Homo sapiens: one gene and its partner. Each later gene encodes a partner of the first gene's protein in a complex. Each region holds a gene or a part of one and is shown on either strand. Other genes may lie near its edges. A codon is read from its position in the direction of its gene.

Region 1 (7,572 bases):
GCCCGTCTTATCGTCAGCCGTCATCTCGGTGCTTTTCACAACCACCCTGTTATGATCGCCCTCCATTTTAAAGAAGGAGACTGGGGAGCTTCACCCACGGTCACCCTCCCACGTGCGAGGCGGAGTCCCGACCCACGTCCGTCTGACGGAAGGCGGAGCTTTCACGCGAGGCACGCACGGAGGCACACACAGTTACCCATCCTGCCCTGCCCTCTGGCCGCCCACTCACTGGGCAAGCAAAGGGCTCAGAGGCGACACACAGTGATCCCAGGGCTTTATTTACAAGAGGAGAAGGGTTGGCCCTGCCTGGGGCCTGGCTGGGCTATATACAGGGTCAGGGAGAGGTGGGGGGGATGCAGCCATTTAAATTACAAAAGAATGGGGCACTCCTAGGTTCAGGTTGTGAGTCTGTCCATCGCGAAATGCTTCCACAGGGTCAGGGCTGAGGCTGCCAAGAGAAGGGAGTGAGGGAGTGAGAGGGTAGCTGGAACCTGGAGGTGGAACAAGAGGGTCTGGGGCAGCTGGGAAGCACAGAATGAGGCTGCGGCCACCCCATCCACCCAGGGAAGGCAGTGGAGCCAAGGACACAGGGCAGGGCAGGGAGGACACCCAGGCAGAAGAGCTGTACCATGGCCACCTGAGGACAGCACCGCTCACTTCCTCTTGAGGGAACCCTTGCTCTTCTCCTTGTCTGCTGACCGCTGCTTCTTCACTTTCTCCTCCCTCTTGTTCTTAGTGTGCAGGTTCTCATACACATCCTCCTTGTGTCTGCAGCCGGGTGCAGGGGGGCAAGTACAGGCAGTTGGTGCAGGTCAGGAGACAGCACAGGGGGACCCGGCACTGGCAGTCCCCTCTGGCCACCCCGTCTCACAGGTGACGCAGCCACGGTCCCTGCACTAGACTCCAAGCTCCTAGAGGACAGAGGCTACATCTCATACACGAGTGCGCTGCTGGTACCTAGCAGAGGCCCACACGTGTGGGCACTCAGGAAATGCTTATGAACAGAAGGGGTGAGAACCAAGCCTGAACTTGAAGCCAGGTCCCCCCAGCTGCAACACTTGTCCTCTCCAGAAAGTGAGGATCGGGCTGGGCAGGACAAAGGGGTGGATGCCGGGCAGTGGCAGTCAGGGCCACTCACTTGGACGAGGTGCGGGAGGCCTTGGCATGGGCATTCTTCATGGCTGGGGGATAGGTGATGTTCCCGTACTCCGACTCCTGGCCCTTCTGCGACTGTGGGCAGAGGGACAGTGGGAAGGTGGTGGTCCCAGCAGGGCCAGGTGGCACCCATCCTGCACTGCAGCCCCCCCCCCCCCCAGGCCCTGCTCTGCACGCACCTGCAGGACCTCCAGCTTCTTCTTAGTGGTTTCAATGAACTGGGCGATGGCCACGTAGATGAACTTGTACTGCGCCTCCGTCTGCACCATGCCCGAGCGCTGCGCCCGCACCATCTGGATGGTCTTCTGGATGTCAATGTCACAGTCCAGGCCTGGGTGGGGGGCAGTCAAACCTCAGGTCCAGGCATAGGCGGACACCGAGGGGCTGCTCACCCCCCACCCCCAAACCCCCAGGTGCCCCTCACCCTTGGTGGAGATGTTCTCCATGAGCATGTCGATGACAATGATGGTGCCTGTGCGGCCGATGCCGGCGCTGGGGAAAGACGGGGGTGCCATCAGAGGCCAGTCAAGCCCTCCCCGGGAAGGGGGGTACCCAGCGCTCAGCTCCAGCCCCAGGCACCACAGGAGCAGCCTGAGCCTCCAGTGATGGGAGGGAATGTGCCCAGGGTCACCGGGCAAGTGATGATGGAGGTTTGCCCAGCTCTGCATGGACACGCTCCACCTCGGGCTCTGCGGTGCTGACGCTGGCTCCCCAGCTGCCACCATCCTTCCCTCCTCCACTCCTCGCGCCGACTCCTCACTCCTAGTGAGTGGCTGCCCCCACCCCGGAAGACCTGGGACCCCCAAATCCCACCACTGTCCTGCCGGCTCCCAGGTACCCTGAGCCCTCCCCGCCTCTCCCTGAAGGAGTTATGGAGCGTCTCTCAGCATGGCTTCACTTCCCTTTTCCTTCAAACCCTGACGTCAGGGAAAGGATAGCCCTGAGACAGCAGGGTGCGGGGGCACAGGGTCAGGGGACTCAGGGGAGCAGTGCAGTAGGAAGTTTCTCTCCTTTCCCAGCCCTGGGCAAACAGACCTCAGGGAGACCCCAGGCCCACCCTCAGCTGAGCCCAGCAAGCTGATGCCCTGAGTCGCGCTGTCTAATTTCAAACCCAGATTGTCAAAAATAACCCCCCACACCCACTTCCTTCCTGTAACGTCTAAATAAAGGCCATGGGGCTTTCAAGAAGTGTGTGAATGTGTGTGTGGCGGGTGAGCAGGAGGGTAGCTCTCGGGGATGGGCCTGTCCCTGAGAGAGCACAGGACAGAGCCGCGTCCCCGGACAGCCCATCGGGGGCACCTCTAGATTCAGCCGACTTGCCCTGTCCCAGGACAAACAGCTGCTGGGGGAAGAGGAGGAAGCCAGAGGCCGTCGCAGGCCTGGGGTCCACGGAGGGAGTGGGAAGGGACCGGGGCAAGGCAGGTTCCCATTCCCCTATTCTCTGCCTGATGTGAGTTACTAAACTAGTAACAGCGCCCAGTTTTTGAGGGCTGACGGAATTCCAGCCACAACGATAGGGTCTCATTGAGTTCTCACGACAACCCTGAGATCCTGATTTTACAGATGAGGAAGCTGAGGGTTAGAAAAGTTAAGTAATTTGTCCAAGACCACACAGCTGGTAAGCGGAGGGGCCCTGCACCCACTGCCTCTCATCCACCCAGGCCAGGCCAGCTCAGTGGGCTCACCTGTGGAACCCCTGCTCCTCCTTGCAGCCCCCACCTCTGCACCTTACCAGAGGTCTCCTGATCACAAACATGCGGGTAGATAGACAGAGGAGTTATGTGCAGCCCCAAAGAAGCATCACCCATCCCCACACAGCCCTGGGGGCCAGGATGGGGCACTGCCTGGGGAAGCTGGGAGAGAGGGCAGAGTCAGGAAGAAGCCGAAGCCCTGCGGCTACCGATGGAAAAAGAGGAGGAATGGGGAGCACATGCCTCATAGATGTTCCTGGGAGAAGAAACCAACAGAATGGGACCTCGAGAGAAAGCGGAGCAGCCGGGACACAGGCCTACTGTGGGTGCCTGCCCGGCCTTGCCCTGACTAGCTTGGGCCTGGCCAGCAACTGGGTCCCGGGCTCCTCCTCTGTATTTGGCAGGGTTGGGCGAGATGGTACATCCGGAGAGGGCTCTGAGGAAGATACCCACAGGCAGAGGGCCAAAGTGGGGCTGGTTCCAGCCACGATCCACCCAGGGTTCTGGAGCCATGAGGGGACCCAGGAGAAGCCGGGGGTGAGCGGAGGGCACTCAATGTGCGAGCTAACGTTTATATTGCTTATAACAGCTCATGGCACTTAGCAGTATTTACTTCTCAGCTGTCACTACTACCATCAGGATTATCATCCTCACCTGCAGTGCACGATGATGGGCCCTGCGTGAGGCAGACTTTCCTGCCGCTGGTTGATCTGGTCCAGGAAGCTGAGGACACCCCCAGGCTCACTGGGGACCCCATGGTCGGGCCAGCTCAGGTACTGGTAATGCCAGATCTCCCGAATCAGGTCTCCCTAAGCCGAGGACATAGGGTCAGTGCCCCCTCCTCTCTCGGAACACCTCATCCATCTCACCCTACCCGACCAGAGAGGAGAACAAGTCCAGGGAGGGACTCCCGGAATGGGGCAGGGCGTGGGGGCCACTCACATTGTCCAGCGGGGAGACCTGTAAGGTACGGAGTTTGTATTCGGTTGTGTCATGCTCCCCGCAGTTGGTCACAGAGTAGGGCCCATAAGCACGCTGCATGCCCACCTCGGGCCAGTATGGGACGCATTTGTTCTGGAAAGGGAGGGTCGGGTGGGGATGAGGCACAGAGCAGGGCACTGTGGCCCATCCCAGGTCCTGCTCTATGTTCTGAGTGCCTGGCACCGGCCCAAACATTTGTTGGATGGACGGATGGGCTGGCAGAGAGGCAGGAGACCTGGGCTCTCGTCTCAGATCAACCACCAACAGGTGGTGAGGCCTGGCCAGCCACTTCACCGGTACATCCGTTTGTCATTCAACAAACGTTGCCAGGGCAGGCATTGTCCCCGAAGCTGTGCAAACCACACAGCTTCACAGACACAAATAACACCCAGTCTGTGCCCCTGTGCCTCGAGGAGCTCACAGAGACAGGTGACCGGGGGAGACACCGCGCTGAGGAGCGTGGCTGGGAAAGACGTAATTCTCCCTCTAGGTCCTGGAGGAAACAAGACCTGGATTCACAGAGGAGGCAGCGCTCCGGCTGTGTCTTCAAAAACGAGGCATCTGCCAGGCAGAGATAGTGTGGAGAGAGTCATTTCCTAGCAGAAAATGAGCTTGTGCAAAGAAAGGCTGGGAACCTGAAAGAGCTGGGGCTGCTGGGGGCGGTGAGCCTTCAAGAGAAGCGTGCGGGTCAGAGGGAAGCCACCAGACCTTGAATGCCAGGCCTTAGAGTGCGACTTTATCCCAAAGGTGACCAGGAGCCATGGAAGAGATTTCAGAAAGGAAGGAACTTGACCCAGTTTGTGTCACGGATGGGATCACTTCAATGGCAGCACAGAGGGTGCTGTGTAGGGGGAGCCTGCAGGGTAAGGGGCAGACTCCAGAGAGATCTATGGGGCAGGGAGGACAGGAGGGGCCTGGATGCAGACAGGTGGGGCAGGGGTAGGAGGAAGGAGGACAGCCTGGAACCTGGGTCTGGAGCTCAGAAGAGCCCAGGGATGCATGCAGGGATCTGGGGGTCACGTTGTGTAGTCGAGACTTTGTCACTAGCCCTCAGTTTCCCAACAAGGGCCGGACCCTCACCCCTGAGATCCCTTTCTGCCCTGGCATCTGACTGCTCTTCGACTTAATGGCATGACCACAAGCACGGGGGCGGATGCGGGGAAGGGGGGGCGCCCTACCCGGCCTTTCTCCACCTCTCGGGTGGTCATGACGATGACACGGCTGTTCTCCTGCCACGCCATCTGCCAGAAGTCATTGACCGTGGCCTCCAGACAACCCTGGCTGGCGATGTAGGTCTTAGCGTTCTCATCAGGGCCTAGCAGCTGGTTCTGGACGCAAGCGTGGAGAGACGCACCCCAAGACAGTGAGCCCCTTGGCCCAGCACAGGCCCTGAACCACTGCCACCCTCACCCATGCAAGAAGCCAGCTTCGGCTTTGCCCAGCTGTCTCTGGATCTAGGGTCCCCCCACCAGACAGGGAATTCCCAGGGCCCAGCCTCTCCTCCCACGTGGCCCACACTGCTGACCTTGATGTAGTTGGCATTGATGTAGTCGGACCCGGGGATGTTACTGTCCCGTCCCTGCAGGATCACTCGGCTGTGGTCAACTGGGAGTGGGCGGAGAGGAGGCGAGATGGTCTGGGTTAGCCAGGGACTCACCACACCTGGGTCAGACCCTCCTGAGCTAACAGGCCATTCTGGTCTCAGAAGCCATGAGGCTTGCGGGGGACTGTGGGCAGCAGGGGTGGGGGATCATCTGTATGGAGGGAGTGAGGGAGTTCACAAGGAGGTTGGGAGCAGGGGGCAACCTGCCTGCTGGTGGTGGGGAGGCACTTCTGGGAGGAGTAGAGGCCTTTTGGAGAAGGGGGAGGCTCTGTGGGGGGTGTGGGGAGATGGCCCCTCCTGGCGTGGAGGGTGGAGACCTGTGAGATGAGGGGAGGCAGCTGGGGCAGGGGCGGTATCCTGGGTGAATGGGGCAGCCTGGGTGCTCACAGGGGAGAATGTTCTTGTAGCGGTTCTTGCCCTTGTTCTCTGGCCGCTGCCCTTCCAGACGCTGGTGCAAGTTCTTCACCTCCTGCTTCTGCAAACTCTGAGATGTGGGTGGGGAAATGAGCATCAGCTCCCAAAGAGGGCATCCATCGGGGGAGCTCACGTGGGGTGGGTCAGGAGCAGAGGTGGGCAAGGAGGGGAAGGTGTCCGCCTGGGGCCCCAGGCCGCTGCCACCACCTCAGCTGCCCCAGCCCTGCCGGTCCCCACCATGCACCTCAAACTCCTCCCAGAAGCCAGCCTTGGCTGTATCCTCGGACTCCTGCTTCTTGTTCAGTTCCAACACTCGGTTCTCAATGTCAGCCGCATTCACCCTCGTGGCATAGTACGGCTGGGGTGGGGAAGAGCGAGAAGTCAGCAACTCAGAGATCCCAGAAGCTCACATCTGGGGGACAGCTCAGGGGAAGTGGGGAGGCAGCTGGGCCCACCCCTGACCTGCCGCAGGTAGACAAAGGCGCCTGAGGCCTCCTCAATCCCCGTCTTCTTGAAATGCTCCACCAGGTCCGTGAGGCTGTCGAAGGTCTCCAAACCACCCACTGTGTAGCGTCCACCCTGGGGGGAGCCAAATTAGGCCATTCACAGGACTTGAGTCTCCCTCCCTGGGTCCCCAGCCTTGAATTCAAGCCCAGGCAGACCCTCCCTGCCACCCACACTGTGGTCACAGACAGGAGCCTCAGCAGAGGCTCCCCCGCCGCCTGGCTGCCTTACCTCGCACATGACCTTGATGTGGGTGACCCTGAGCGGGGAGCCTGGGCCAGCCTTGGGCTGGTCACTGAGCACAGAAAGCACGAAGTCTCCAGGCTGGCTGAGGCTCTCACGCACAAGAAACGTCCAGGGCTCGCCCTTGGCCTGCAGCAGCGTCTCTGCCTGCCCGCCAGACATGTGGCCATGGTACCACCTAGAGAAGGCAGCGTCAGGGAAGGTAAGACCCAGGCCACAGGGGAAGGCGCTGAGCAGAGACATTCACAGAGAGGGGCCGGAAATCAAGCACCTACTGTGTGCCAGGCACTGCGCTACATGCTTCCAAATCCACCACCTCATTTAGGTCTCTCACAAACATGCTGAGAGCTAGGTATGATATTACCCCCATTTTATAGATGAGGAAACTGACGCTGAGCTGTTACTCACTGGCCTAGGGCCCTTGACTGACTCTAGGGCAAGCTTCCAGAGCTCTGTTGCCCAGGCTGGAGTGCAGTGGCGCGGTTACAGCTCTCTGCAGCCTCGACCTCCCAGGTTCAAGCCATCCTAGCCTCCAGAGTTCTAACCGGGCTTCGAACCCAGAGCCCACCTCTGAAAGGCAGAAAGGCTGGCAATATTCAAAATATTTGGAGGAGAGAAGCTAAGGATGAATCTCCGTGAAGGATGGGACTGTGCCCCAGCAGAGACCAGAGGCAAAGAGAAACGCAGACCGAGGCCACACCACAGGGAGTGGTGGGAGATGGACACACAGACTCAAGTCACAAGGAAGGCGGATGGGGTGCGCTCCGCCAGGGAGGCGGGGAAGACAACCCCACTGGGGAAAGAGTGGTGTAGGGGGTTCTGGGGTGCCCTGGATGATGTCACTGAAGGGGAGCCCAGGGTTCAAACGGATTTGAAGGGGCTGTCAGGGCAGAAAGCAGAACTAAGCCCTTTCCCCGAAGCACACCCCTTTCCCAGGAGGAAACTGTAGCCCCACAAAGCCCAGCCCCACAGGAAACCACG
Region 2 (8,041 bases), 3.5 Mb from region 1:
CTTGTTGTCTAGGGTAATATCTGAGGTTTGTTGTCCCATGACCACAGAAAACTAGGACGTGAACACACCAGAGTGAGGTTAAGACAGGAAGTTTAATGGGCAAAAGAAAGAGAAGAGATCTCTGCCCAGGGATGGGTACTGGAGAAATGGGTTGCTGCTTCTGCAGTGAAATGTAGAAGGTTTTATAGATGAGCTTGAGGGGGCAGTGTCTGATTTACATAGGGCACGAAAGATTGGTCGGACTAGGCATGCCATTTGCATAGCGCTTAAAGAAGCTGGCCACTCAACCCTAGTCTTTTATTATGCAGATGGTTGTCTACCTGGCCTGTGCCATGTTGCCTGGTTCTTTATTAGTGACAAAGAAAAGGGAAGATGGAGCCTCCAGGTTGAAAATGCCTGGCTTCCAGTCAGCCCCTTTTCTATTGGCACAGCTGCCAGCATGCACACATGCAAGTCTCCAGCCTGCTTATCTATGTCTGCTGCTTCATTTTTCAGGCTGCTCTTTGTTAGAAAAGAAGTTATTTGGGGCTGCTTTTTGTTAAAAGGGAAGCCTTGCTGAGAATTCCTTTACCCTCACTATCTGCCTAAATAATTTCTTTCTCGTTCCTGTATCACTAGTGTAACTGTCTAGCCATGTGCAGAAGAGTTAAAATGGACCCTTACCTTTCACCATATAGAAGAATTAACTCAAGATAATTAAAATTTTAAATGTGATACCTCAATCTGTAAAAATTTTAGAAGAACACCTAGGAAATACCTTTCTCAACATCAGCCTTGGCAAACAATTTTTTGGCTATGTCCTTAAAAGCAAGGGCAATAAAAACAAAAATTGACAAATGAGACCTAAACTAAAAAGCTTCTGCACAGCAAAATAAACTATTAATGAAATATACAGACAACCTACAGAGTGGGAAAAATTATTTGCAAACTATGCATCTGACAAAGGTCTAATATCCAGAATCTATAAGGAATTTAAACAGAACAACAAGGAAAAACAATAACCTCATTTAAAAATGGGCACAGGACATAAACAGACACTCCTTAAAAGAAGACATACAAGTATCCAGCAAGCATATTAAAAAACACTTATCATCACTAATCAACAGAGAAATGCAAATCAAAACCACAGTAAGATACCATCTTACACTAGTCAGAATGACCACTATTTAAAAGTCCAAAAACAACAGATGCTGATGAGGCTGCAGAAAAAAGAAAATGCTAATACACTATTGGTGGGAATGTAAACTAGCCTAACCGCTGTGGAAAGTAGTTTGGAGATTTCTCATAATACTTCAAACAGAGCTACCATTTGACCCTCAATTGCACTACTGGGAATATAACCAAATGAAAATAGATCATTATATCAAAAAGACGCATGCACTCACATTTTTATCACAGCACTATTCACAACAGCAAAGATATGGAATCAACTTATGTGCTCATCAGTGGTGGACTGGATAAAGAAAATGTGGCATATATACACCATGGACTAGTACTCAGCCATAAAAAAGATAAAACCATGTCCTCTACAGCAACATGGACAGAGCTGGAGGCCATAATCCTAAGCAAATTAATGCAGGAACAGAAAACCAACTACTGAAGGTTCTCACTTATAAGTGGGAGCTAAACACTGAGCACCCTTAGACGTAAATATGGGAACAAAAGACACTGCAGACTACTAGAGGGGAGAGGAGAGCAGGGAAGAATGGTTCAGAAAACTACCTACTTTGGATTATACTCACTATTCTGGTATAATATACCCATGTAACAAACCAGCACATGTACTCCCTGTATCTAAAAATAAAAGTTGAAAGAAAAAAAATTGGAAAAATTCTCAAGGACAGTTGACTGGCCAAAGATTTTTTGAGTAATACCCCACAATCACAGGAAACCAAAGCAAAAATGGACAAACGAGATCACATTAAGCTAAAAAATAAACAAAACCCCCCCACGAGATTCTCTTATCTTAGACTTTTGACAATTTGATTATATTATGCCTCATAATAGTCTTTTCTGGGCTGATCTTGCTCATGATTCATTGAGCTTCATGAATCTGGATTTCCATATCCTTCCCAAGTGAGGAAGGTTTTCAGACAGTATGTCTTTAAAGAAAAAATATTTTTGACTTTTTATGTCTCTCTTCTCCTTCTGAAGTTTCTATACTTTCTATACCATATTCTTGGTGGTGTCTCAAAGGTCTCATGCTTTCTTTGCCACTTTTTATTCTTTTTTTACTCTAATTTGTTAATTTTAAAAGACTCTTTTTTTGAGTTCACTAATTCCTCTGCATGATTGAGTCGGGCATTAAAACTCTCTATTGACTTATTTATTTCTTTCATTGTGTTCTTCAGCTCCAGAATTTTTGTTTGGTTCTTTTTAATAGTTTATATTTCTTTATTAAATTTTTATTTTGTTCATGTATTTTTTGTTTTAGTTGTATTTTTTGTTTACTCTTTTCTTTTGCATCTCACTGAGATTTTTTAAGATGATTGTTTTGAATTACTTTAAAGGAAACTTATAGATCTCCATTTATTTGGATCAGTTGCTAAAGCTTTATTAGTTTCCTTTGGTGGTGTCATATTTGTCTGATGCTTTGTTATTTGTTTATCCTTGTACTGATGTCTGTGCATTTGAAAGAGCAGACTCTCTTTCAGTCTTTACAGACTGGTTTCGGTAGGTTAAAAGCTTCTCCTGTTAGTGTCCTGGGCTGATGAGATTGCCTTCAGTATCATGGTTGAATGGGGTTACAGCCAGATCACATGGTTGCTTACGGGTCCAGAGTGGGATCTTTGGTTCATGATCCTTTTACTAGGGCTTCTAGCAGGCTTGTATCCTATTTAGTGCCTCAGAGGGCCAAACTGGCTCTAGAATCATACTGTATAGGGCTGGGGAGGGGATGAGGGTCCACTTCAAGGTCTGTAAATGGTGGGTCTATTATTAGGTGTGTAGTTGGGGAAGAGTTTATCTAGTTTGCTGGGAAGGCTGCTCATGGGTCTCTGAGTGGGTTCCTCAACCTGTGGCACAGAGGAGTTAGTGCTAAGTCACAAGGTTTCCTCGGGGTCTATAGCTGAAACCAGTGTCTTCATGTCTGTCTCTGGGGTCATGGTTGAGTGTGTTTTCTGGCAGGTCTGTGGGCAGGCAGATTTGCCTCAGACTGTAGTTGAGTTGGGCTGGAGCTGGATCCAGAATTGTTTCAAGATCTGAAATAAAACTAAGGTCTGTGCCTGCAGGGGCACTAATGATGTCTCTCTCCAGGTCCCTGTATGGGCAAACTGCTCTCTAGCATAGCTGAGAAGTGTCGAAGCCCCTTTTCTGTCCAATTAAAGGATCTGCTGTGAAACCTAGGTCAATGGTCTCCTAGTTGGGACATGGATGCACATGTCCTCCCTCTGTATCCCTGAGCTGGCAAGACTGCTCACAGTCCACAGCTGAGAAGGGTGAAGGTCAAGATTCAAGGCTGTTTCAGAAACTACCGTGGAACTGAAGTCAGCAAGCCTGTACTGCTGACAAAGATGATTGAGTCTCACAGCAATTTCCTGTGATTAACTCAGGTCACAGTTGAGAGGAGTTTGAGTGGAGATTCAGGGCCATTTTAGTATCTTCTGTAGGACAGAGGTCAGCAAGCATGCCCCAGAGGTACAGATGTATATGTCTCCCAGGAAGTCTCTGTGGGTGAAGGACTGATCTCAAGTTGTGGCTGACACTAGTTAAAGCCAAGTTAGAGGGCTGTTTCAGGGTCTACATTGAGACTACAGTTGATATGCCTACCTCCTGAGACACTAGTGTGTGAGTCTCCTCCTGGGCCCCTGGGCAAATGGTTTTGGCAGCATGACCAAGGCCTAAATGGGGCTGAAGGCAAGCACAGGAGGATGGGTCCCTTTTCAGGTCTGGAGATGGAATCACTGTTGGTAAGTCTGCCACTTGGATGCAAATCTATTCCCTAAAACAACCTTCCTAGGTCTTGGGTTCCACTGGCATTTTACAAACTCCTACTTGAATTCCAAACTCCCTCAAAGGAACTTTTGTCTGTGGATGGCTGAAAAATTATTGTTGCTGTGGGGGCATATGTGTGGGGGACCACCTATTCTGCCAATTTACTGACTTTCCTCCTAGTAAGATTTTAAAATTACTTTTTCCCCATACATAGTTTGACTTCAGTTTTTGTCATTTACAACTAAATATTTCTATGAAAGTCGACATAATTTGTTATGGCGGAGGATGAATAAATGAAGAATGTAATGAATAGCTATTTAATATTTCAATTTCTGGTATGCTAATATATTTCAAAATTGATTAATATTTTACCTATCCAAGATATTTTTATCAAGGGTAATCTGAAGATTAAATAATCTATTTTTAAAAATTAAGTGCAAAAATTTAAGAACTAAGAGAAGTTAATAATATAACTTTGGCAATGATGCTTTTTGTGCCAGCTACAATCAATTGAGTAATTACTGCAGTAATTTTTCAGAATAATTAAGGAAAAAATCAGTAGATATCAGTTGATAATATTACTATGAGTTTTAGAATGTTTTCTATTATAATGGAAGTGACATAATAAAATAATATAAAGAAAAGAAGTATGCAATGTTAAGATTTAGCAACCTAGTCTAAAAGGCACTCTTAACAAGGTGAGGGTTGACAATGTTCGTGATCAAGACAGAAAAAAAAAAAATTCTCATAGGCACTTGAAAAATGAACCAACTAAATGACACACTTTCAAAGTCAACCTTGTACTTTTAATAGACCAAGTATCCTATATTTTGGAGGTGTGTGATGAGATAAAACTGATTTCACAATAGCCCATGTGTAGAATTTCCTGTTCAAACCTTAGTAACACGTTGATGAGAAATCTACTTTTTCCACTCTTGACTCACTCTGAGCCTTCACAGGGCAGTCTGCGAAGATTGCAGGCATTGTTTGTTCTTGTCTTGGATTTATGCCTTTAAATTTCACCTTTTATTACACAGCTATAGCAGGCCTTTTTATGAGACTAACCTGGCCTCTCCACTAAAGGATGTGTGACTTTCTGGGGACAGAAGGTATGTATTGCTACTCTCCAACTCTCTACTAGCCTACCTCATTTAGTGGGTGATTTCAAGTGCTCAATATGATACAAAGGAGGTATAATTAATATACAATAAAATCAAAGTAGAATATTGCTGTCTTCATTTGAATAACTCAGGGTAAAAACCTAAAATATGAAATATGTTGAAGGATTTCTTAAAGTTTTCAAATTATTGTTTGTGGAAATCTAGTGGGTTTGTTGATCAATATCGTTTAAGGGAAAGCTATTAACATCACAATAATGAACAATTAATTTTGTATTTTGTAATCAGTACATCATGTATCTTTGAATAATAATTTATATTTAGCTTAGCCATTAAAGATTATTAAAATAAATCAATCAATTGATGAAAGCCAAATACAATTCCTCAGACACGTAGATTAGAGAAAAGCAGTTTTTATTTTTAATAAAAATCAGAATGAGGTAGATTACATAAAATGCTAAAGGTATTACAAAGCAATAAAAATACTTTTTAAAAATTGATCAAAATATTGCAAAAAAAGATGTAGCGCATGGACATAGGAGACTTATCTGAAGATTTATTTTCCATGCTTTAACTGACATGAATCAGAAACAGTAACATAACAATTGTGACTAAAATAATAATTAAAGTAGCTAATGCTTATTGAGAACTTTAAGTGCCAGGTTGAGTGGTAAATGTTTTACATGCAACGTTTTATATGTTCTTATGCCCATTTTAGATTAACAAACTGGGTTATTAAAAATAGAATAACTTTTTAAAGGTCGCACATTATAAGTGTCAAAGCTAGAATTAATTCTAGATCTCACTGACTCCAGAGCCCATTGACTAAATGATTTAATTACATTATCTGAAATTTTACAAGTACTTATACAACTAAAGTGGCCTTTACTCACTTTGACAACCATAAAATCATTCTATAAGTTTAAATGAAATGTGCTTTAACATGAATTACCTATACTTTTATTTATCATTTTTTGGTTCATAATTTAGCCAGGAAATAAATTACCAATTACTAATTAAATTACCAATACTTCTGTAAGTATTAACAATTTATGTAGTGTTCCTAATACTATTTAGGTTATGCATAAGTTAACTGTGTCACATAGCATTTTCTGTCATATACAAATATTTAATTTTTTATAATTTTTAATAAATAATTTTTAATAATTTCTTAGAACATTTCAGCCATTAAGAAAAGACCATTTAATTACCTCTATTGATTTTCATTAATGTGTATAAATTACTAATTAAAAGTAATGTAGTGCAAGAAATTTTTATATATATATATGTCAACTTTACTATTACTCATGTGCAGACCACATAGTCTTAACCATTACTGGATTTCAAAATTAACATAAAAATGAGTGCAGAAGTTTTTCTAATACAACATTTTAATTTTTAACACAGGTAAAACATCAGACTTTAAGAAATATATTTTTATTCCTGAACTTCTTTATTCCTTAGTAATTTATTGCTTCTCATTGCCCCAGCAATAATATTTTGTCAAATGCAGAAAATTTATCTTTTTTTTTTGAGTCGGAGTCTCACTCTGTCGCCCAGGCTGGAGTGCAGTGGCACAATCTCCGCTCACTGCAACCTCTGCCGCCCATGTTCAAGAGATTCTCCTGCCTCAGCCTCCCGAGTAGCTAGGACTACAGGCGCCTGACATCATGCCCGACTACTTTTTGTATTTTTAGTAGAGACGGAGTTTCACCGTGTTAGCCAGGATGGTCTCGATCTCCTGACCTCGTGATCGGCATGCCTCGGCCTCCCAAAGTGCTGGGATTACAGGCGTGAGCCACCGCGCCCGGCCTAAAAATCTTTTTTTAAAACAAATATTCATAAGAAACGTGTTTAGGCTTGAAGAAAATCAGAGAAAGAACTTTAGATTATTTAATGCAAAATGAGCTCCAATACTCGTTCTCCACCTCACCCTTTTAATTGCACTAGGGAATCCTGTATATAAACCATTTATTAACTTCTTAACTACTGTTATTATAGAGTACAGTCCCTGACATCACACACTGCAGAGATGGATAACCAAGGAGTAATCTACTCAGACCTGAATCTGCCCCCAAACCCAAAGAGGCAGCAACGAAAACCTAAAGGCAATAAAAACTCCATTTTAGCAACTGAACAGGAAATAACCTATGCGGAATTAAACCTTCAAAAAGCTTCTCAGGATTTTCAAGGGAATGACAAAACCTATCACTGCAAAGGTAAAGCATTTAAAAGATCCTCAATATAACAGTCTAGGATGTGCAGCTTGGGGTACAGGAATGTGGGGAAAGAGAAGGGAGTGCTCATATATCTTCTATTTGCAAAGATCAGAATTCCAAGTTGAGATATGCTATTTCAATGTAAAGTATGAAGACTGATTGAACTCATTGTTGAAGTTTGTAGTCTTTGTCAAATAATTCATGGAGCATTATTTTTCCTGAAAATTCAATGGTATATTATTCTGAGAAAAAGATTACAATGGGAGATGAGGGTTTGGGGTCCAAGTTTCTCTGTATGATTCCTGTGCATTCAGGTTCTCTTGTCTGTGAATCTTCTAAACGACTGTATCCACCTCTCCTTTCGCACTGTTCCCATTTCTCTCCCTGCAGATTTACCATCAGCTCCAGAGAAGCTCATTGTTGGGATCCTGGGAATTATCTGTCTTATCTTAATGGCCTCTGTGGTAACGATAGTTGTTATTCCCTGTAAGTCTATTTTCGAAGATTACAAGGGGAATTTTCACGTTAATGATTGAATGTGCCTCTAAACATTTCATATTTTCAGGGAATAGAGTTCTCATTGTAATGTATATATTTGGACTAAATGTGGAATGATTATTCTGAATTTGTCAAAGAATAAATGAAAGAATAATTGTTGAAAGTATTCGCTTCTGATGCAATCGTATGTATATATTTGGATTTCATAACTCAAAAATATGTTCTAGGAGTCTGAAAAACCTTACTGAGAAATAGAAATTAATTTTTGAAAGT

What was found. Proteins that work in one complex are often made in the same cells at the same time.
Region 2: the proteins of PTPN6 (region 1) and KLRC1 are in contact, whole or in part, in an NMR structure (PDB 2YU7), measured with the Homo sapiens proteins. Residues at the interface, in NP_002822.2 of Homo sapiens: Gly117 (codon at 6,747), Gly118 (codon at 6,744), Glu121 (codon at 6,735), Arg136 (codon at 6,690), Ser138 (codon at 6,684), Leu139 (codon at 6,681), Ser140 (codon at 6,678), Val146 (codon at 6,660), Thr165 (codon at 6,603), His166 (codon at 6,600), Ile167 (codon at 6,597), Lys168 (codon at 6,594), Val178 (codon at 6,408), Gly179 (codon at 6,405), Gly180 (codon at 6,402), Leu181 (codon at 6,399), Glu182 (codon at 6,396), Ile199 (codon at 6,345), Glu200 (codon at 6,342), Glu201 (codon at 6,339), Ala202 (codon at 6,336); in NP_002250.2 of Homo sapiens: Ile38 (codon at 7,195), Thr39 (codon at 7,198), Tyr40 (codon at 7,201), Ala41 (codon at 7,204), Glu42 (codon at 7,207), Leu43 (codon at 7,210), Asn44 (codon at 7,213), Leu45 (codon at 7,216), Gln46 (codon at 7,219), Lys47 (codon at 7,222).

The regions. Positions count from the first base shown.
Region 1 is NC_000012.12:6,954,002-6,961,573, reverse strand, and holds the end of PTPN6 (tyrosine-protein phosphatase non-receptor type 6), read right to left. Parts: intron 6,770-7,572; coding exon 6,580-6,769; intron 6,424-6,579; coding exon 6,307-6,423; intron 6,203-6,306; coding exon 6,089-6,202; intron 5,915-6,088; coding exon 5,818-5,914; intron 5,433-5,817; coding exon 5,353-5,432; intron 5,156-5,352; coding exon 5,006-5,155; intron 3,921-5,005; coding exon 3,789-3,920; intron 3,656-3,788; coding exon 3,501-3,655; intron 1,648-3,500; coding exon 1,580-1,647; intron 1,487-1,579; coding exon 1,335-1,486; intron 1,231-1,334; coding exon 1,139-1,230; intron 912-1,138; coding exon of another isoform or gene 769-911; coding exon 654-768; 3' UTR 629-653; intron 449-628; 3' UTR 258-448; downstream 1-257. UniProt on the Homo sapiens protein: Tyrosine phosphatase enzyme that plays important roles in controlling immune signaling pathways and fundamental physiological processes such as hematopoiesis.
Region 2 is NC_000012.12:10,450,199-10,458,239, reverse strand, and holds the start of KLRC1 (NKG2-A/NKG2-B type II integral membrane protein), read left to right. Parts: upstream 1-4,862; 5' UTR 4,863-5,042; intron 5,043-7,052; 5' UTR 7,053-7,083; coding exon 7,084-7,270; intron 7,271-7,660; coding exon 7,661-7,756; intron 7,757-8,041. UniProt on the Homo sapiens protein: Immune inhibitory receptor involved in self-nonself discrimination.